Linked DNA regions of Homo sapiens: regions 1 and 2 are each linked to region 3. Evidence: fine-mapped QTL for protein levels in blood plasma. A gene starts in region 3. Each other region holds a variant in brackets. All regions are shown on one strand. Distances are from middle to middle. Region 1 holds the start of LOC124909422 (a long non-coding RNA gene). Region 2 overlaps ITGB5 (integrin subunit beta 5). Region 3 holds the start of ITGB5 (integrin subunit beta 5).

The links. A credible set is the group of variants that fine-mapping cannot tell apart. PIP is the posterior inclusion probability: the model's chance that the variant is causal. Protein levels are from antibody-based Olink assays in UK Biobank. Linkage for the fine-mapping came from a reference panel and not from the study's own genotypes, which makes the PIPs less certain.
Region 1: its variant is the best candidate, but not a certain one, in a credible set for the plasma level of the ITGB5 protein (UK Biobank, PIP 0.89). The variant lies in the coding sequence of ITGB5. If it changes the protein, the assay may bind it differently, which can mimic a change of level.
Region 2: its variant is the best candidate, but not a certain one, in a credible set for the plasma level of the ITGB5 protein (UK Biobank, PIP 0.77). The variant lies in the coding sequence of ITGB5. If it changes the protein, the assay may bind it differently, which can mimic a change of level.

The regions. Positions count from the first base shown.
Region 1 is chr3:124,793,166-124,800,683 of GRCh38, reverse strand. It overlaps ITGB5 (integrin subunit beta 5), which reads left to right. Exons shown (of 15, transcript NM_002213.5): 10 at 3,867-4,296. LOC124909422 (a long non-coding RNA gene) reads left to right here and starts at 4,309. Exons shown (of 2, transcript XR_007096043.1): 1 at 4,309-6,763; 2 at 7,412-7,518. The variant G/A (reference allele first, on the strand shown) is at 4,077.
Region 2 is chr3:124,855,804-124,863,321 of GRCh38, reverse strand. ITGB5 (integrin subunit beta 5) reads left to right here. Exons shown (of 15, transcript NM_002213.5): 3 at 3,876-4,080. It also overlaps the pseudogene ENO1P3. Among named protein-coding and RNA genes, the nearest start is that of ITGB5, 28 kb to the left of the region's middle. RefSeq lists an enhancer at 3,977-4,514. The variant G/C (reference allele first, on the strand shown) is at 3,957.
Region 3 is chr3:124,882,212-124,889,729 of GRCh38, reverse strand. It overlaps ITGB5 (integrin subunit beta 5), which reads left to right and starts at 2,365. Exons shown (of 15, transcript NM_002213.5): 1 at 2,365-2,799. The coding sequence starts at 2,730. RefSeq lists enhancers at 105-989, 990-1,872, 3,641-4,525 and silencers at 1,987-2,426, 2,887-2,976, 6,034-6,328.

The DNA.
Region 1 (7,518 bases), 89 kb after region 3:
ATAGCACTTCCCGTGCCCAGCAGGAGCTGAGACCCAGTGGCTGAAATAGACAGAACATTCTCTGGTTATCAGGCATCTGGCTACACTCCAGGCTGCACAGGGCCAGACAGATAGCACCTCACTTGGACCGAAGGCTTGGCTGGGGAAGGCCTCAGGACCTGCTTGAAAGCTGGGCCCTCCTTGCTTGCCCAGCTGGGCAGACAGTGCCCAAGTGTTTCTACATGCTGGTGATTGAGTGCCAGAACTTTAGGGGTGCCCTAACCTCCCACTTTCTCCCAGACACATCAGCAAGATTCTGGAGACTTAACTCTCACTTTCATTGCTTTAACCCCAAGGCAGGCAAGTTTCCATGAGACAAGGTTATACTCACAGGTGTGTACTCCCCACAGTCTTTCAATAATTAAATGCCTTTGGCTCTTGGTCCAGGTCATTCCTCTGTAGTTTATTCAGTTTCTGACCCGCAGATGCCTCTGTGGAGCACAAGTCCAGCAAGTTGTAGCCCTAGAAGTACAGGGTTTCAGCTGTAACTTGAAGCAAGCTACAGGTAGCTTCAAGCATGTCACTGTTGTGGGAGCTTCAAGCAAATAGTAATAGGAGATGCAAGCAAGTTTCTCTCTGGGCCTCAGAAGGGAGGGATGGCATCTGCCCCTCAAAGCTCCATTCACCTCTGCATTCTTGATGGCCCCACGGGTGGCTTCGGGCAGGCATAGTCCCCACTCTTATCCTATCTGCAGGCTCAAATCGTTCCCAGCCCACGGCAGAAAGATGTGGAGATGCCTCTGGCCACCACTTTGGGGATCACCATCAAGGGGTCCCTTTAGTAAGCCAGGCTGGCTCTCCCTGCGCACCCCGATGAGGTAGACCTCATTCCCCCGTCTAGGAGGTGGATATGCTAAGGAGAGCGCGGGCCCTGCTCTAGGCCTGGCCCCACTCATCAGCTGTGTGAGCATGACTAAATCCACCAACCCCGCCAACCCTGTTTTCTCTCTGGTAAAATGAGGACACTTCCTTCTAGGGCATTTAAAAGAGATGCTTGTGGAAAAGTCCAGCACAGTGCCTGGTACATAGTAGGCACTTGGCAACTAATAATTATTAGTGTTTTGTTTTGCTTTTTTTTTCTTTTTGAGACAAGATCTCACTCTGTCGTCCAGGCTGGAGTGCAGTGACACGATCACGGCTCACTGCAACCTCCCCCTCCCGGGCTCAAGCCATCCTCCCACCTCAGCCTTCTGAGTAGCTGGGACCACTGGCATGTGCCAAAATGCCCGGCTAATTTTTTGTACTTTTGGTAGAGATGGGGTTTTGCCATGTTGTCCAGGTTGGTCTCGAACTCCTGGCCTCAAGTGATCCTCCCAGTCTGCCCACCTCAGCCTCCCAAAGGGCTGGAATTACAGGTGTGAGCCACTACGCCCATCCTATTCGTGTTATCCTTTAACCAATTTCAGTGTCCAAGTGGATTGAATCTTTACTCACCTTGAGAGACTCCCTGTACCTCGAGACCTTGGAACTTAGCCTTGGAGTTGTTTTTGTCAATCTCTCCCCTTTGTCTCTTCCTACTCTTCCTACCCCACAGAGATGGAAGGTAAGGTGGAGCTAGCCCAAGCTGTCTGCAGCTGGCCTGGTCCCCCGAGTGTCTTCTGATCCTGCTCCCCTAGCTATCCTCAGCTCACCTATCCAGAAGCCTCTCCTGTTGAGCCTCTTGGCTAATGCTGAGTCCTGGGTGTCTGTTGTCAAGTCCTTTGAAACAGCAGTTTGCTGCCACGCAGGACTTTCTGCAGGACTTATAGAGCAGGATCTATCCTCCTGCTCAGTCCCATACCCTCTCCCCTCTCCCCGTGTCCCTAGATGTCACAGCATCTGAGGGGAGGCCTTTTAGAACCAGTAAAAATCTCAAAGTAATAGGGATCTGTATGTTTAGAAACAGATATTTATAATGTTCTCAAAAAATGAACATCGTGGGCCGGGCGCAGTGGCTCACGCCTGTAATCCCAACATTTTGGGAAGCCAAGGCGGGTGGATCACTTCAGGTCAGCAGTTTGAGACCAGCCTGGCCAACACAGTGAAACCCCATCTCCGTCTCTACCAAAACTACAAAAATTAGCCAGGCATGGTGACAGGCACCTGTAATCCCAGCTATTTGAGAGGCTGAGATGGGAAAATCGCTTGCACCTGGGAGGCAGAGGCTGCAGTGAGCCGAGATGGTGCCACTGCACTCCAGCCTGGGTGACAGAGAGACTCTGTCTCAAACAACAACAACAACAACAAAAACATTGTTACCTGAAGATTGTCCAGTAAATCAAGTGAATGATGACATTTTAAAAATTAGCTTTAATGACTGGGCGCAGTAGCTCACACCTGTAATCCCAGCACTTTGGGAGGCCGAAGTGGGCAGATCACGAGGTCAGGAGATGGAGACCATCCTGGCCAACATGGTGAAACCCCATCTCTACTAAAAATACAAAAATTAGCTGCGTGTGGTGGCGCGCACCTGTAATCCCAGCTACTCTGGAGGCTGAGGCAGGAGAATGGCTTGAACCCGGGAGGTGGAGATTGCAGTGAGCTGAGTGCATGCCACCGCACTCCAGCCTGGCAACAGAGCGAGACTCCACCTCAAAAAAAAAAAAAAAAGCTTTATTCTAGCCGAAAGAATAGAATTAAGAATAGTAATAGCTGAAAGTGGTTTTTAACCCATTCTGAGCTTCAGAATGATCTGAGGAGCCTTTTGAAAAATAAAGACATTTGGACCCAGATCCAGTGAGTCTGTTTGTGGGGTGGGCCGGGCCTCTGTCTGTTCAGGGAGTAAGGGAGAACCCACCCCTGAGTAAAACTTTACAACGGCATTTCATCAGGGCACACTGGCCACCTGTCTGTGCGTTTTCATAGAATCCACAGTGACTTGCTCTCAGGGCCCTGATGGGTGATTCAGACCCCACATGGCTCTCCTCAGGGGGGTGAGGAGGAGAGGGTGGGGGAGTCAGGCTCTAGTTCCTGAATCAGACCAAGCCTCATTCTTGCTTTCCTTCCATCCCAGCCCTGTGGGCAGCTGACAGGCATCCCTCCCGCACCATCTGCCACCCATCCAGGCCCACCTTGAGCCTGTTTTCAAGGCAATCTGTGAGAAGCTCCTGAGTGAGAAACACTTCCTTACATATTCTGTTTAAAAAGAAAAGGTCTGTCCATGTGCATGGTGCATTTCATCAGTTGGAGACTCTTCTTTAAGACCTCAGGGGCATGGGGGGATTGTGAAAGATGCAGCTATGACAAGCACTCACAGAGGAGGAATTGGGGCACGGGGGACTCGGGGGTGTCTGGAGAGCAAGCTCTGGAGTCAGCTGAGCCCTTTGCCAGCAGGCACAGAGCCCTCTCTATGGCGGGCCAGGTGGGTGCCCTTCACCCGGCACCCTGTGAGAGTGCCATTGTGCCTGGCACAGAGGCAGCGCCCAGGAAATGTTTTTCCACCAAATGACTTTTTAAGTGAGCAGAGAAGAGGCATCTGCAGCGGGGCTGGGAAGAGGATAGGACAGAAGAGAAAAGAAAGGGAGAATAAGAACTGTGTGAACTCAAGGAAGCCCTATAGCTTTCCGCAGGGGCCCATTTCCTCAGGGTCATGGGGATGCAAAGAGATAATGAATGTTAAAGAATTCACCTGTCAAATGTGAGCTCACCTGTGCATTCTCTTCTCCATGAAGCATGGGAGCTTGCTGGTTCTGAGGTCTCTTCCTACTCCGGCCATCTTGGTGGTTCTACCTGAGTGCGTGGAGAGGGCTGGAGTTCGCAGCTGCTCTTCATCAAGGGCCCTGCCCCTGGGTGAATGGGAGACCCTGGCTTGCCGCAGCCATGATATCCCTTCTCTTCCTTCTGCCCAGGCATCTTTTGAAGTATCATTGGAGGCCCGAAGCTGTCCCAGCAGACACACGGAGCATGTGTTTGCCCTGCGGCCGGTGGGATTCCGGGACAGCCTGGAGGTGGGGGTCACCTACAACTGCACGTGCGGCTGCAGCGTGGGGCTGGAACCCAACAGCGCCAGGTGCAACGGGAGCGGGACCTATGTCTGCGGCCTGTGTGAGTGCAGCCCC[G/A]GCTACCTGGGCACCAGGTGCGAGTGCCAGGATGGGGAGAACCAGAGCGTGTACCAGAACCTGTGCCGGGAGGCAGAGGGCAAGCCACTGTGCAGCGGGCGTGGGGACTGCAGCTGCAACCAGTGCTCCTGCTTCGAGAGCGAGTTTGGCAAGATCTATGGGCCTTTCTGTGAGTGCGACAACTTCTCCTGTGCCAGGAACAAGGGAGTCCTCTGCTCAGGTAAGTGTCCCCAGCAAGCACTTTAGCTCTGAGCCAGGCCAAGATGCCGTTAGGACACCCTCCCAAAGCCTGCCTTTTACTCAGTGGTGGTAGAAAGTGTCACTACCATGGCTCTCCTTGGAGAAGACAGTGGGCAAGCCTTGCTACCCGTAGGCAGGAGGTGGGGATCTGTGTGCAGAATACGAAAGCAGAAGGTATTGCCATAAATTGTGGACTCTCAGAATTCGAGGGGCCTGCGTGGGTCATCCACCTTACTTCCCAATTCATGCAGGACTGGCCTGCACAGCATTCCTGACAGGTAGAGATGTTCAGCCTCTTCTTGATTGCCTCCTGGGACGGGGAACTCACTGGGGCTGGCAGTGGCCATCTGTCCCTTAGCCAATGAACTCATATCTTATTGCTGCTCCCATAACTCACCACAAACCTGTTGGCTTAAAATAATACACATTTAATCCATTACAGTTCTGGAGGCCAGAAGTCTGAAATGGATCTTATTTGGCTAGAATCAAGGTGCCAGCAGGGCTGCATACCTCCTAGAAGCTCCAGGGGAGAATCTGTGTCCCGGCCTTTTCCAGTTCCTAGAGGCCACCTGTATTCTTTGGCTTGCAGCTCCTTCTTCCATTTTCAAAACCAGCAGAGTAACATCCTCAGATCTCTCTGACTCTGACCTCTGCTTCTGTTGTCAAATCCTTCTCCCTCTCCTACAGACCCTTGTGGTTACAAGGGACCCTCAGTCGAACCCTGGAAAGTCTCCCCATCCCCAGGTCCTCAGCTTACTCACATCTGCACAGTCCCTTTCACCACGTAAGGCCACACAGTCACAGGTTCCAGGGATTAGGATGTGGACATCTCTGGGGGCTCTTATTTTTCCTGCCAGAATTCCTCTTTTTTTTTTTTCTGAGATGGAGTCTCACTCTGTTGCCCAGGCTGGAGTGCAATGGCAGGATCTCGACTCACTGCAACCTCTGCCTCCCAGGTTCAAGCAATTCTCCTGCCTCAGACTCCCGAGTAGCTGGGATTATAGGCGCCCGCCACCACACTCGGCTAATTTTTGTATTTTTAGTAGAGACGGGGTTTCACCATGTTGGCCAGGCTGGTCTTGAACTCGTGATCTCAAGTGATCCATCCACAGCCTCCCAAAGTACTGGGATTATAGACGTGAGCCACTGTGCCCGGCCCAGAATTCCTCTTTATACTGAAGAGAAACTTGTTTCTCAATAACTTCCTCCCAATGGTTAACATTCTAGAGTCCCCCTTCCACGTGACAACCTGTCAAACATCTAAAAGCTGCTTTATGTTTCTCTGTTCTCTCTTCTGATCTAGGCTAGACACCCCAAGTCTCTTCCTTGTCCGAGGGTGCTATCATTTGTGAAGCATGCTTCACATAATCAAGTGCGTTACTTGTCATGCTGGATGATGAGGGCTTGGTCCAGGGTTCAGTGAAGCATGCGTTTCCTGTGATTTGGACATTCTGCTTACATGGATGCACCCTGACAATACATTCACCTTTTTTTATTTTCTTCTTCTTCTTCTCCTTCTCCTCCTCCTTCTCCTCCCTTCTCCCTTCCTCTCTCTCTCTCTTTCTTTCTTGTTTCTTTTTTTTTTTGAGATGAAGTCTCGCTCTGTTGCCTAGGCTGGAGTGCAGTGGCACAATCTCAGCTCACTGCAACCTGTGCCTCCTGGGTTCAAGTGATTCTCCTGTCTCAGCCTCCTGACTGGCTGGGATTACAAGCACCCACCACCACGCCTGGCAAATTTTTTTTTTTTTAAATAGATATGGGGTTTCCCCATGTTGGCCAGGCTGGTCTCGAAGTCCTGACCTCAGGTGATCCACCCACCTCAGCCTCCCAATGTGCTGGGATTACAGGTGTGAGCCACTGCGCCCAGCCCACCTTTTCGTTCTGTTAAACAGTCACAGTATACTCTTGAGCTGGTTTTTAACTTCACTACCAAAAGTTTGAGGCTTTTAATTTATTTTATTTTTTAGAACTGTGGTTCAGAAGGAGAGGTACTTTTTTAGTGTGTTGTGTTGGAGCCCTTAATTTTCTGAATCTAAACACAGGAGTTTACACTGATTCCAGTTAAATGACAAGTTGGCAGTTCCCACTCTGGTATTGCGTTCTGATTAAATGCTTCAAAATTGTATCTCAAAGTTTATCTAACACCATGCCACCTGTAAAGGTAGTAAGTAAAACAGTTTTAGGCAGGGCTGTGGTTTCTTCTACACATCATGTATTCTGTGGTTTCCAGGGCTCCCTCCTTAAGAATGGTCTTCCAATTGGGATGGGTGGATTTGAAAGGAACTAAGGGATCAGCTGGGAAAGAAAGCACAAGGTGCATCTGAAGCAAACCAGGAACGTGCAGATACTCCGTCCTATGGGAGGAGGAATTGTACTGCCACACAGGGTTGCACAGACGTGGGTTAACAAGGGAAGCTTCCTGGAGCGGACCTTGCCGTGACACAAGCGTGAGTACACCCATGGGCGTCGTGGGACCAGCATGTCTAAAACTGGAGTTGCCCTGGAGAGTGCAGGACTTAGCAGTGTCATTGCAGAGTAAAGTAGGTGGAAAAATCAGGATTCAACATGCCAAGCATGCAACAGGGATCAACGCTTTCCTCAGCAGAGTGATGATAGGTTGGTGTTAGCTAGATGGTTCTGTCTGGTTAGTAGAAAAAGTTTGGGCTCCATAGCAGGAGGCCTGGGCCTAAGTCCCATCATACCATATCTGCTAGTGTGACTTGGGCATAGAGTTGTTATGAGGAATAAGAGATGTGTGTGAAGCACCCAGTATTTTGCCTGGCACAAAAGGAAAACACACCCAATGCTGGCTCCTCTATGAGTCAGTGCCACACCCCTCTGGGGGGGCCACACCTGGTTCCCCATGTGCAGGAGGGCCCCGCCTTCCCCCAGACAGTCCCCAGGCTTTGCCTAAAAAATTCCAGGGTGGTGGAATGGAGTTTCCATTCCTCTTAGTAGCCATAATAAAAGCTCTAAGCAGCCTGGCAGGCTTTTTAGCAGTTTTTCTTTTAAAGAGATATTAGCAAACGTGACAGAACCATCCCTCCTTCCCCTTCAGGATCCTGAAATAACCCTCTGGTATGTCTTCACCCTAGAAGCCTGCGTGTGTCCATGCAGCCTGGGAGCAAGGGCGTTTGAGTCAGATGCTGTGTGCACGTTTCATCTCCACAGTTCATCAGGCTGTGACCTTGGTTGTCTTGGA
Region 2 (7,518 bases), 26 kb after region 3:
TGCCAAAAGAGATCTTTACCTCTTAGGGGAATTTCCCTGTTAAGGTAGCTGCCTTACCCTCAAAAGCTTCTTCAGACCTGCCTTGCCCCGTGGTGCCTCAGCTAGTGGCTCTGAGTCCCTAGAGCTCTGGGAAAATAATGACAGGACTCGATATATAGGTAAAGATGCCTCAAAGTTGTTGAGCACATCAACAAAACCATATGGCCTGACCTAGATAGCAAGAAAGCGAACTTTGACACTGATGATAGAGATGCCTGGCACTGAGAAGAAATCTAACTTTGGTCCGCGTGGCATATGGTGTGTCCTTTGCTGTCTATAAAGCTGGAGTTGCTGAGAATAGGACTCCCTTTGTACCATCATGTTGCTGACTTGGTCTGTGCTTCCGAAGTCAGTGCAACCCTGCAAGTTGCAGCTTTAATGTGATTAATGGTGGTTTCCACACTGGCAACCAGGTGACAGTGCAGGAGCCCATGATTCTTGTTGTTGGTGCAGCTAACTTTAGGGAAGCCTCGTATGCACTGGAGCTGAGGTTTATCACAACCTCAGCTGAAGAATGTTTTTAAGGAGAAACATGGGAAAACTGCTACCAGTGAAGGGCATGAAGAGGGCTTTGCTCCTAACATCCTAGAGAATAAAGAAGCCCCAGAGCTGCTACAGCATGCACTTGGGAAAGCCAGCGACACTACTAGGGTTGTAATAGGCACTGACCTGTCCGCCTCACAGTTCTTCAGGTCTGGGAAATATGATTTGGACTTTAAGTCTCCTGATGGTCCCAGCAGATACATTTGGCCCTGTACAAGTTCTTCTGCAATGATGGGTAGTATCCATCAAAAATCCCTTTGAGCAGGATGTTGGGAAGCTCAGATGAAGTTCACTGCCAGTGCAAGTATCCCAGCAGTGGGGGGGATCATCTCATTGACCAAACTGAAGGAATTGTGCACCTGCCTCCTGCTTAGGTGAAGCAGGTTGGCTCTGTGCCCTAGTCTATTCCAGAGTGTAAGCTGGTCCAGACCAGTGAGAGAGGTGTCAGGGGTTCTCATTACTCTGAAAAAACTGACCATGCTTCCGTTGCCACCCTGGTGGTGGGGCTGTGCACTGGACTGATCAAAACAGGTGCACCTTGACAAACAGAACTGGGCCAAGTATAGTCAGTTCCTCAGAAGCAGAGGGGCTGGATAGCAAGGCTCAGTTCGCCAGTGAGAAATTCAGAAATTCTCTAGCAGAGTAAGCACTGGGCAGGCAAGCCCCTGAGCTCTTCAAGCTCTGGAAAGCTAATTAGACATCTACTTCAGACAGCTCAAGACAGCAGACCCAAACTGGCAGGGCCCTCAGGTCGTTACCCCTCCTTTTCCAGAACCCTGTGTTTTTCTTCTCACTGCTTCACTAGAACTGCTATATCAGAGCCAAGCTTGACCACCTGGAACCCCATTTAGAAAGTTCTGCTTTTAAATCTAAGGCCAGAGGCCGGGTGCACTGGCTCACGCCTGTAATTCCAGCATTTTGGGAGGCCGAGGCGGGCAGATCATAAGGTCAGGAGATCGAGGCCATCCTGGCCAACATGGTGAAAGCCCGTCTCTACTAAAAATACAAAAATTAGCTGGGCATGGTGGTGCGTGGCTGTAATCCCAGCTACTCGGGAGGCTGAGGCAGGAGAATTGCTTGAACCAGGGAGTCGGAGGTTGCAGTGAGCTGAGATTGCGCCACTGTACTCCAGTCTGGTGACAGAGCAAGACTGTGTCTAAAAAAAAAAAAAAAAATCTAAGGCCAGAATAATATATATATGTGTATCTCTCTGTGTGTGTGTGTGTGTGTGTGTGTGTGTGTGTATATATATATATATGTTTTGTTTTGTTTTTTTAACAAAGTCTCACTGTCGCTCAGGCTGGAGTGCAGTGGCATGGATCATAGCCCACTGCAGCCCGGAGCTCCTGGGCTCGAGCGATCCTCCCGCCTCAGCCTCCTAAAATGCTGGCATGAGCCACCATGGCTGGCTAGAAAACTCATTTTTCTAACCTTGTTGCACAACAAGTGTTTATGGAGCCACTTATACCTTTGATGTAGTCCTGGAGGTTGTTGACAGGCAAGATCCTCGGGGATTTAATGCACAAATAAAAAATCGTTATTAAAAAAAAACAACCCAGAATATAAACAAACATACCGTAGGCTTAGGACAATACATCTGGCTTTACTTATTTAAAAACACTGCAGCGTCTTCTTGACTTCTTGTTCTTTTTTGTGTTTGTTTTTTGTTTTTCTGAGACAGGCTCTTGCTCTGTCGCCCAGGCAGGAGTGCAGTGGCACAATCGCAGTTCACTGCAGCGTTGAACTCCCAGCCCAAATGATCCTCCTGCCTCAAGTCTCTCAAAGTGCTGGGATTACAGGTGTGAGCCACCACACCAGGCTGACTTCTTGATCTTGAATTTTATAAGGATTCTAAAGGGCATTGGGTAGTTCCAGGACATCTGAGACCTTGAGGGAGGGTGCATTCCTCTGATTTTTGTGCCTCTGCCAGCAGTCTGGCTTCTAACAAAGTGGTCAAGGGATGCTGACTCACATGAGGCTTCTGGCAAAGTGTTCCAGAGGGAAGAGGAAGGGACCAGTGTCCTAACTCCTCCAGAAAGACTCATAGGACAGCATTGGCTTCCAGCCTGCCAGAGTGGGGGGAATCTTGTTTTTCACATTCACCAGGGAAAAGGTGAAACCCCTTTGCCGGAAATGACCAGGGAGGCTTCATGATTTATAATAAAGTATATTGTTTCATTTTAAAGTTAATACCTTAACCTTCTGGTGTCCCAAATGAGGTTGAGTTGTTCTGATGTCCAGCTTTCTCCCAAACCCAAAGAAAGATTTTTCTTATCAATGTGTCGTTATCATACAAACAACAAAGATAAAAACAAAAATGTTTTTGTCACTTTACTATAACACCTCATTTAAAATTGTTCTTTCAAATCCTAATAAATACAATTCTATATTTTGGGTTTTTTTTTCCTCCTTAGTGTAAATATTTTAAATTTCTTCTTAATTCCCATAATTATTTGTAATGGCTGTCATCTATTGAAGTGATATGCTATGTTATTCTTATGGTTTAAGGATTTAGGTTTGCAAGTTTTAAAGATTATATTATAAGTAATACTGCCGTATATATCACATAGAGTTTCTCCTTTCTCTTTAGATGATTTTCTTGTAATAAGTTTCTTGGAGTAGAGCACTGGGTCAGTGGATATGACCTGTACTGCCACATTGTTCTCCTGAATGATTATCCAGCATCCAATGCCTGTGAAAGATGATAAGTGAACAACTTAAAGGTTAACTCTTGAATGCCCAAGGGAAGACTTTTCAGCTACTTATATGTCATCTTATTTATTTAACTATATATTATTTCATCTACTTATTTATTTATTTTTAGAGAGGAGGTCTCATTATGTTGCCCAGGCTGGTCTCAAACTCTTGATCTCAAGCGATCCTCCCACCTCAGTCTCCCAAATAGCTGGGATTACAGGCATGAGCCACCATGCCCAGCAATATATAACAACTTTTAAAAAATTTTAGCTATACAACTTCTGATCATTTCTGTTTCTCTTGCTAATCATGTAGGCAGTTAGGAGCATTTTAACCATCAAAATAACAACAAAACCGAACATTTTTATTATGTGTTTACAGTTTACAAAATGCTGTCATGTCCAGCAGCTCAGTTAATCCTTACAATACTTGGTGAAGCATCTGGGATAGGGATTACCATTTCCTCCATTTTCAGACAATGAAAATGGAAAGTAGAGAATTTAAGGTCAACCAGATGGAGACGCAGCCACGACATGCGATGTTTTCGGGAGACACCCTGACCACCTCCTGCTCTCTTCCTCTTTTTCCCTGCCTAGGACTTCGGAAGCCCACGGTCCATCACCTCTCGGTGTGATCTGAGGGCAAACCTTGTCAAAAATGGCTGTGGAGGTGAGATA[G/C]AGAGCCCAGCCAGCAGCTTCCATGTCCTGAGGAGCCTGCCCCTCAGCAGCAAGGGTTCGGGCTCTGCAGGCTGGGACGTCATTCAGATGACACCACAGGAGATTGCCGTGAACCTCCGGCCCGGTGAGTTGCCCACAGAAAGGGCTGGATGCTCTGGGATCAGGAAGGCCCATGGGGGAGGTGGGACTTGTTAATAATGGGACAATGAGTCAGGCCAGGCTGAGATCAGAGCCACGAGATGGTGATGGGGAGGCAAGGCTCAGACCTCAGGAAGCAGAGTATATTCTTATTGATGTGTCTGTGGACAGGCTCCTGTGGACAGAGGAAGATCTTTGCTATTTTTAAACAATTGTGGTGAAATATACATAACATTTACCATTTAAGCGTTTTCAAGTGTACAGTTCAGCAGCATTAAATTCACAATATTGTATAAACATCAGCAGTATCTATTTCCGGAACATTTTCGTCGTCCTAAACAGAAAATCTATACCCATTAAACATTAACTCCTCATTCTCTCTTTCCCTTGGTTCCTGGTAACCAGCATTCTACTTTATTTTTTATTTTTCATTTATTTTTGTTTTTAAATTTTGTTTAAATCAGGGAGCAACTGATGGCAGAAATTACAGTCATTCAGGGTGTAGTGGCTGCCTACTCTACTTTCCGACTCTGAACTTGACTAGTCCAGATACCTACCATAAGTGGAATCATCCAATATTTGTCCTTTGAAGTTTGACTTGTTTCACTAAGTGTAATGTTTTCAAGTTTCACACATATTTTGGCATGTGTCAGCACTTCATTCCTTTTTTGGCTGAGTAATATTTCATTGTATGGGTGTATCACATTTTGTTTATTCATTTGTCAGTGAACATTTAGGTTGTCTTCAACTTTTGGCTCTTGTGAATAATGCTGTGGTTTATTCTAGGAGGATGCTGGTAGATTTACTCCTTAGTGAATGCAAGTTGCTCAGGAAACACGCCACTTTTAGGAAAAAGTGTTTTTTCCTGTCAGCAAATTCCATTTGAGTCTGTAGCATTCTGCAAGGACAAACTTTTAGAGTGGAGATATTTTGTTTTGTGACCATGGGGCCCTGCAAGCCTTAGAGTTGCTTAATATAAGGAAACGGTAATATAATTACTTATAATGTAATATAAAGAAACAGTTTTGCACACCTACTATGTGCTAAACACTTGACCTAACTTTAAGGTAGCTATCTTTTTTTTTTTTTTTTTTGAGATGGGGTATCGCTCTGTCACCCAGGCTGGAGTGCAATGGCACAGTCTTGGCTCATTGCAACCTTCACCTCCCGGGTTCAAGAGATTCTCCTGCCTCAGCCTCCCTAATAGCTGGATGTGTACCACCACGCCCAGCTAATTTTTTTGTGTGTGTGTTTTTAGTAGAGATGGGGTTTCACCATGTTGGCCAGGCTGGCCTTGAACTCCTGACCTCAGGTGATCTACCTTCCTCGGCCTCCCAAAGTGCTGGGGTTACAGGCGTGAACCACCATGCCTGGCCAGGTAGCTCTCATTTTACACACAAGGAAACAACCTGCTCAAGGTCTCTCAGTAAGTGGTGAATCGATTCAGCCCCAGGTCTTGGTAACCACAAACCCATGGCTGTTTCTAGTTCACCACTTTTATCATTGAATATTCTGCATATTAGAAGCCTTGCAATGTCAAAGGGTTAGATGTGCATGTGGCTAAATTGGAAAGTATTACGCTATTGGGAAGGGGCAGATTTTTTCACATTTTACTGATTTTTTGCTGTTTTCTTCTATCCCATGGTCTAGGAAACCATTGGCAGTAGCTATTTGTAGATGGTTTATTTAGACTCCAGGGAAGCTTGTAGCAGTGGAAAGATCATGGATCTGGCTGGCTCTCTTGGGTTCTAGCTCTGGCTCTGTCCCTAGCTTGGAGGCCCTGGGCAAGTTACTCCATCTCTCAGCATCTTAGGGTCTTTGTCACCTTTGTTCCTCATGGGCATGTTCAGAGGCTTAAATGGACTTTTTGTATCAGTGAACTTTTCAAAGTTAAAATTTTTATTATTTTCAAAGAGCAGTGGCCGAGGGTACCAGATGGAGGTTTGACCAGGGATGCTCAGTGCCTTGGAAATGGATTAACACAGTGCTGCATGTGGTAAGCACTCAGTAAAGCTCGTTGTTGTTGCTGTGGTTATCATTGTATGGTCTGCACCAAGAGTTTTTAAAGAAAGCTCCAAGTCATCATATAGTTGAGAAATGTTTTATTTTGTCTATTTTAATTGTCTTGAAAATAAGAAACAAAAGAAGAGTGTAAGTTGGCCCTGCTGGATAGAGAAGCTTAAACTATTGGGTTGCCTGCCCAGGAATCAGTGTTGAGATTAATTGAAGTTAGGATTTTTGCAAACCTTCTCACTGTAAGCAACACTCAGCCTTTTTGTTTAGTGAGATACTGAATTGAGAGAGAAAAGGAAGGGAACTCTTACAGAGCTGTGTGAGTGGGTAGAAAAAAGTCAGCTGAGCACTTATGTGGGCAGATGGTTGGTAATGTCCTCTGGGGAAAGAGAAATCTCTTATGTGAAGACAGACTCAGGGTCCAGGGTTTGGACCGAAAGGGATATAGGAGTTGTTATAGACCCTTAATATGTTGGAACATCGTGTTGTATAAGAATAGTGTATTTTCTTTTTTATCATAGTAACAGTATAGCAATAACACATGAAATTCTAGAAAAATAATCCACTTTAACATAAAATTATTTTTCATTTTTACTATGTCCTCTGTATTATTCACCTTTTTGTATTTTTCATATACTTATCATAATGTATGTATAATCGTGCTATTTTCATTCAATAATCTTTGAAAATTAGGAAAAAAATTCACACCTCCAAAAGAGTTTGTAGTTTCAGAGCCATTGTGGAGGAAGGTTTTAATTTACATTTTCTGAACTCCTCATCTAGAATAGCTCTCAAAGCCTGTGGTGTTCTCTCCAAGAAGTATCCTTTATGGTGGCAAGTCTCTCTTCTTCAGGATAGACTTAACTTAGACAAGAGTTGCATCACACAAATCCAAAGATGTCCACACTTTAATAATTCCAGTTTTTAAAATGAGAATTAAGGTGTGAGTGTGAGCAGAGATGGTTGTCTGGTTTGACTATCAACTGGCTTTTACAGCAGTTCCTGTAGAAGAGTTAGAGAGTTAGAGAAGGCCGGGTGTGGTGGCTTATGCCTGTAATCTCAGTGGTTTGGGAGGCCAAGGAGAGAGGATCGATTGAGGTCAGAAATCTGAGACCAGCCTGGGCAACATAGTGAGACCCCGTTGCTATGGGGGAGACTGAGGTGGAAGGATCCCTTGAACCCAGGAGTTTGAGGCTCCAGTCTAGATGAAGATGAGACTCTAAAAAACAAAAACAACAACAACAACAAGAACCCAAAATAAAAAATAAGTGATTTGAGTAACGGCAGGTTTGCATACAATCCGTATTTATGCATAAAACTCAATATATGCTCAGTTAAGGAAGAAAATCATTCTTATTTGGTATAGTTACATCTCCTGCTAAGCATTATGATATGATTTCTGGTATTAGAA
Region 3 (7,518 bases):
TTATTTATAATCACTGCCTCTCAAACTGGCATAAGAGTAGCTCCAAGGCCACTGACCTAAGAGACAGGTAGCTCCAAGATAAACCCAGGACAGCTCCTGTAAAATGTTTAGGGACAAGCGTTTTACATCAAAACAAACATGAGGATATTATAGAATATGTTAACCCCAAATATCTGAGACCAGTCTCAGTCAATTTAGAAAGTTTATTTTGCCAAGGTTAAGGATGTGCCAGTGACGGGAAGTCCTGACAATATGTACCCAAGGTGGTCGGGGTTACAGTGTGCTTTTATACGTTTTAGGGAGACATGAGACATCAATCAATATGTGTAAGACGTACATTGGTTTGGTTTTGTAAGGCAGGACAACTTGAAGTGGGGGCTTCCAGGTTAGAAGCAGATAAGAGACAAAAGGTTGCATTCTTTTGGGTCCTTGATCAGCCTTCCACTGAATACACAATTTAGTCTGGCTCAGTGAATCTGCATTTTTACATAAACAATAGGCCAGAGGGAGCAATCAGGTATTCATTTGTCTCAGGTGAGCCTCAGAGGGATGACTTTGAGTTCTGTCTGTCCTTTGTCCAAAAGGAATTTCCTGTGGGTAAATTGTGAGGGAGGTATGTAGCTTCTTAGCTATCTTAATTAGGCATAAAATGGGAGGCAGGTTTGCCTGACACGGTTCCCAGCTTGATTTTTCTCCTGGCTTAGTGATTTGGGGGCCCTGAGATTTATTTTCCTTTCACAAATACTATAAAGGAGCTTGCTATGGACTGCTGCATCTTTGCCCCCAGGCACACTATATTGTACTTCAAGAAGTTTACTTCCTCAGGCATTGAGGCACCACCTTGTTAGAGTTTGGGAGGAGGCCAAGAAATAAAGGTTAACATCCAAACTCCTTGAGCTGGGCAGTTAGGACAGTTTTCCACTGGGCCCTCCAAGCCATTCTTCCACCAGGTCCCTGGCCTGCAAAGGTGAGACCCCTTTGTTCTTTCCCCCTTACTGCTTCAGTTTTAGCCAAGCCATGCTGCACTTTTGAACGAGGCATCCTAGCTGTCACTTCCTCCAGCAGTTAACCCCTCTGTCCCTCGGTTCCTCAACTGGATAACAGTAGGGTTGTCGGAGGATGAAATGAGTTAATATGGGTAAAGGACTTAGAACAGTGCCTGGCTGGCAGTGTGCTCTCTGTACTTGGTAGGTATTCTATCGTTATTTTCCCCTACCTGAATGTCGCCTCTTCTCTTGCCTATCAACCACTCCACTCTAAACGCACTTGTAGCGAATCCAAGCCCAAGGCATCCTTTCCTGCACCATCTGAGGAAGACCCCACCCCACTCTTTATTGGCTAGTTCAGATCCAGCTTATATGTAAATGATAAGATGAAAGCCTGAGCATATGTTTTTGAGTCTATCAGTTTGATCATGGAAACTGACAGATTATCAGTAAGGACAACGAAATATAGCGGCATATTGGCCAGTCTCAAATCCTTGAAAGGTGCAAAAGTTAAAAAGTGAAAAGTGGGCCGGGCACGGTGGCTCGCACCTGTAATCTCAGCACTTTAGGAGGCAGACACAGGAGGAATGCTTGAGCCCAGGAGTTCAAGACTAACCTGAGCAACACAGCGAGACCCCCATCTCTACAAAACATGTAAAAATTGTCCGGGTGTGGTGGCGCGCGCCTGTAGTCCCAGTTACTCAGGAGGCTAAGGTGGAGGAACCTTTGAGCCCAGGAGGTCCAGGCTGCAGTGAGCCAAGACTGGGCCAGTGCACTCCAGCCTGAGTGAGAGCAAGACGCTGTCTCAAAAAAAAAAAAAAAAGAAAAGAAAAAGAAATGTAGGTTTTACTTGTGCCTCCACGCCCCACCACGCCCTCCCTTGCTCATCCAGAAGTCGCTTTGCGGTTCCACGCGCGGGCGTCTACGTCCCATCTCAGGCCGCCGGCAGTGAGGCTTTGGGAGGATGAGGCGGTACCGGCACGACCCCCGTACCTGCTCTCCCTCTCGCAGTCTAGCAACCGCCTTTGGCCCAAGTAATCTCGGCTCGCCTAATACAGCGTGCCCCGCCCCTTTCCCGTGGCGACGGGCGGCTAAGCAACGGGAGCGGGCTCTACTCAGTGGTTTCGAGCCCCCCACGCCCCAAGTGAGTCGCAAGCGACTTCCACCTGGGCCCGTAGGGCCTCCGCGTCCCGGGCCGGTCCCCGCACAGGGCGGAGCTGGCCCGGCCCGGAGCTCGCCCCGCCCCGCCTCACCGTAAGCTGACCGTGTGGCGGCCGGGCGAGGGCCTGGCAGGGGAGAGAAGGGGAGGAGAAAGGAGAGGAGGAAAGTGGAGCCTGGCGGGCCGGAGGGAGGAAGGGAAGGGGCGGAGGCCAGGGGCAGAGTGTGCCGGCGCGCGGGGGAGTCTCGGCGCTGGGCGCGTCTCGGAGCCCAAGTCGCGGCCGCCGAGCGGAGCCAGCCCCTCCCCTACCCGGAGCAGCCCGCTGGGGCCGTCCCGAGCGGCGACACACTAGGAGTCCCGGCCGGCCAGCCAGGGCAGCCGCGGTCCCGGGACTCGGCCGTGAGTGCTGCGGGACGGATGGTGGCGGCGGGGCGCGGGCCAGCGCGGGCGCCGTGAGCCGGAGCTGCGCGCGGGGCATGCGGCTGCGGCCCCCGGCCCTCGGCCCCCGCGCTCCGGCCCCAGCCCCGGCCGCCGGCCCCCGCGGAGTGCAGCGACCGCGCCGCCGCTGAGGGAGGCGCCCCACCATGCCGCGGGCCCCGGCGCCGCTGTACGCCTGCCTCCTGGGGCTCTGCGCGCTCCTGCCCCGGCTCGCAGGTAAGCCGCGCCGCCCACGGCGCCCAGAGAAACTTTGTCGCACACTCAGCCGCGGGCGGGCGTCTCGGAGGGGCGGGGAGCGCAGGCGGTGCCTGAGGGCGGAGGGCGCCTTCGGGGCACTCCCTGGTGGGCCAGTCGCTGGGGGACAGCCCCGCGGGGCGCTCCCCGCGCGCAGCCCCGCCGGGCTGTCGTGAGTCTCCTGTTCCCTCCCGGGCTGAGGAGGAGCTTCCCTTCCTGTGTAAACAGGCTGGCCGGCCTGCTGACCTAGCCCGCCAGGGCCCGCGCCCAGGGCACGGGGAGGACCGCCGCCAGCCCTGCCTTGGGGCCCGGGCTCTCCGTTGGCGGGCACAAAGCGGTCCTTGTGGCCGGCCGGGAGCGGGCGGGCTGCTGGGGGGATGCCGTCGGTGCCCTGTTCCCGGAGAAGCAAGGGAGTCTCGAAACCCCAGCCAAAGCCCGGGGCCACCTCCACTCCGGAGGGCTCGCCTCCTGGAACAGCGGGTGCACAGGGCCCACAGCGAATCCTGGAGTTCGCTGCGCCTAGGCTAGCCGCCTGCCTTTGAAGATGCAGCCCCCACCCTCCCCGCCCCCCGCCTGCTTCCTCCTCGCCTAGGCCACCGCAAACCCGAGGGGGCACCCGCGTCCCAAACCACAGCCCCACCTGGGACTTCCCTATTAAATTCCTTCTGCCCGACTTTATCCCGCGATTTGCACACGCTCGGAGCCTCACACTCCCCTAACTGTGGAGGATTCTGGAGCAGAGGACAGGGGCTGTGGAGATTGCCTTAGCCCGACGCTGCGGTGGGCTGGCAGCGTTGCAAGGATCCCTCGGTTACCTGCTCTAACTTTTCAGAGTTGGGAGATGATTGGACGTGGTAGTTTGGAGGCCCTCGAGGAAGGATGCACTTGTTTGGGATGCGGATTTTCTCCTTTCTTTTAGGAAATAATAGTGCTCTATTAACTTTCAAGCCGGAGATACTTGATTGCTCTTGTGAGCCAAGTGGTTGCCTGGCTGCCCGAAGGGAGGACTGTTCCCCCACGGTGTCTCATTTACATGAAGGCAGTGGAGGTTTAGGTTTAAGAGCGGAGGAGGGGTCTGAGCAAACAATAACTTCGTTCAGACCCTAATTCAAACTTAATACTGTAGCAAGGTTTTTGGTTTTTGTTTTAAATGGGAAAATAATCACTCCAGAGCTTGGAGAGTAGATGAGTGGATTCCAAACACCCATCCGGCAGCCAGTGCCCATCACGGATATTTTCATGGGTCCCTAGGGAAAGCGAGGAGCAGGAAGATGTAGCCTGCATCACACAGGAATGTATTGTTGTCAACGCTCCCCTGCTCCACAAGGACTTTCCTTTAGTTTGAAATTAGGCACTTTTTCTTTTTTTGGTGGGAACATTTTCTTTTAATACTTCTTAATAATATTAGTAGTTTTTAATTTTGGCAAAATAAGAAAATCTGACAACCCTATGTTAAGCTCCCCTTCTCTTTTTCTGTTTGTTTCTTTTGTTTTGTTTTTAAATCTTAGTTTTCTTTGAAATCCAAAAGTTCAGAAACTGCCAAAGGAGATGGCTTTTAAGTTCCTTTCCAGCTTGACATTCTGTAATTCTGACAAACAGAATTATAATAATAATTTCTAGTTGCAAATAATTTTTTTTTTTTGAGTCAGAGTTTCAGTCTTGTAGCCCAGGCTGGAGTGCAGTGGTGCCATCTCGGCTCACTGCAACCTCCACCTCCCAGGTTCAAGCAATTCTCCTGGCTTAGCCTCCCAAGTAGCAATGATTACAGGCGCTGCGACCATGCCCGGCTAATTTTTGTATTTTTAGTAGAGATGGGGTTTCACCATGTTGGCTGGGCTGGTCTTGAACTCCTCACTTAAGGTGATCTAACTGCCTTGGCCTCCCAAAGTGCTTCAATTACAGGCATGAGCCACCACGCCTGGCTGCGAATAATTTCTAAAAATACATTATTTTCCACTTGCATCTTGCTTTCTCTTTTTCAGAGTTCACGTACATCTTCACGGTGATGTCCATTTTCTCATATGGGCTCAGGAAGGAAGTGACTTGCCCTTCCCCTCTACTTGGGTCAGGAGTGGTGGACCAGGGACCATGGCTTTTGGTCCAGTGCCCTTTGTCCTACCGACTCAGCTTAAGGAAGAGAAAAGCACTGAGCATGGTGGTTCATTTGCAACTCTTTTGGGGTCCTGTTTTCCCATTGCCTATCTTTTCTTTTCTTTTTTTTTGAGACAGAGTCTCACTCTTGTTGCCCAGGATGGTGTACAGTGGCATGATCTCAGCTCACCACAACCTCTGCCTCTCAGGTTCAAGTGATTGTCCTGCTGAGTAACTGGGATTACAGGCATGTACCACCACGCCTGGCTAATTTTGTATTTTTAGTAGAGACAGGGTTTCACCATGTTGGTCAGGCTGGTCTCTAACTCCCAACCTCAGGTGATCCGCCCGCCTCGGCCTCCCAAAATGCTAGGATTACAGGTGTGAGCCACCACGGCTGGCCTCTGCCCATCTCTTTGACTACAGGTTTTGGTGGTGGTGGTGGTGGAGCAAGCCATGGCACTGGCCTCCAGAACTTGCTGCTTACCTCTTAGGGCCCTGAAGCTTCTCAGGATTAGCAGAGGTTGACTCACATCTGTGTCATTTCTCCTAGTTTTTCAGTGTTGCTGAATTAACTTCAACATTCTTTTTTTTTTTCTTTTTTTTTTTTGCTTCCCTTCCCTTCTTTGTTTTCTTGAAGCACTACAGGTACTTTATTCAGGGAGTGTTTCTGTCTTGCCACTAGGAACATTATTTGAAAGAAAAAAACCTAGTTACTCAGAGAAAAGAAAGAGATGACCCTCAGGGCCATGCCTGCCTGGGTGTTCCTGGACCAGTGGTTGAGTGCCTCTCTCTGTTGCTCTAACCCCACTTTCATCTCAGTACGGATTTCCAGCAGGAAACTGACCTTAGGTTTCAGGGGCTCATTTCAAACAAGTCCCTGGCCGGCTGACAACCCCCTCCCGTCCCCACCAAGGGCTATCTCCTGCTCTTTTTATTATCTTATGGCCAAGAGCCTTCAGACAGAATCCTAGGATGTGGTCTTCCCACAAAACCAGGGGTCTCACTGAGGTGAGGCTTTTCCACGCTGCCTTTGCTAAGACAGAGAGAGGAACACCGTCTTATAAAGAGGATCCTGCAACACCGCTGGAATTATGTGTGCTATCACATTCATTTCTTTTTAAAAAAGCAATCGAATGTTCTTCTAGTGAATGCTCTGCACATCCTAAGAAAGCCCTTTGTTTTATTTAGTGGACTCATGTTGGCAGCACCCTTCCTCTACCCCCAACCCCCTACCACATTTCCTGTGGTCTGTGATGGGGTTGTTGGAATTTGGCTGGGTCTGCAGCTCTCTGTAGGTAACCAGGCACAGGTTTAGAGCTGACAGGACAATGAAATACAAACAGTGGGTTTGGTCTGTAGACTGCTGTTTATCCTATGGATTTACATTTTAACTCCATCATCCTTGAGTTGGGGGAGCTTTTTATAAAGGGGATTGAGGCAGAAGAGGGCAGGGTCTAATTAGCTCTAATTAGTATTCCCCGCCTGCTTGTTCTCCATGCTTATTTAGCTACTGAGGCAACGGGGAATTAAAATATCTAAGTAGTTTGGCAAAAGGCCTTTTGTGCCTGCGTGGCCTGGTAACTACTTTTTCTTATTCAGCCTGGCCATGGAAATATTCTGAGATGCTTTAACGATATCAGTAATGTGGGACAATTACAAACTACTTAAATAATAGGGCCCCTTTCACATGGCAGTGTGCAGCTGGGTTAATGGGATAGGGTCTCTTTTCACAGGTATTTCCAGTTGGCTGGAGCCGAGGGCCTTGGAGAACTGACTGCCGTGGTTTGTTTTCCTTCTTTCCGGTTCGAATGGGATTAATGGCCTCTATAAATGTAAAGGAATGCTTTATTTAGAGGCACCCATTTGTTTCTGAGGCTTCTTGCTTCCGTTGAATGCAGGGTTTACTTCCCGGGCCTCATGGTGAAAAGTTTGCTCTAAGACAGGCTTGACTCATCCCCTAAGGCTGATGCTTTGAAGGCACTGCGGGGTACCCTGCCCTCTCTTTATAGGATTCCCTCCCCAACTCCAGCCAGACATTTTCAGAGCTGGTTGTCTCTTGTAGAGCTGGGACCTACTTCTGCAACTTGTTCTCTTTAGTTATTCTCAACTGTCCCTCAGAGTGATCCTGAGATCCAACTCAAGTCAGATCATATCTCTCTGCTTAAAACCTTCGAATGGTTTCCCAGAGTCCTGCCAGGCTCCACGAACTCTCCACCTACTTCTCTGACTTTCCTTCACCACTTTCCCTTCGATCCTTTGCTCCAGCAGCATGGGCCTCCCACTGTCCCTTCAGCGTGCCAGCCATGCTCCCATGGCAGCCCTTCTCCCTGCCTGGAATACTGTCCTCCAAGATATCTGCATGACCGGCTTCCTCCACCCTGCAACCCTTTTTCTAGCATCTCCTGCTCAGCCAAGTTTTCCCTGGCCGCTCCCAGCTAAAGCTGCAACCTCCTCCCTATATCCCGAGTTCTTTTTATCTGCTTTTCTTCTTTAATTTTTGTCCTTAGCACTCACCACCATCTAATGTAACTACATATCTTCTTCACTATTTCCCCTAAGTAGAATTCTCCCCCAGCCAGGATGTGAGCTCCGTGAATAAGGGAGTCT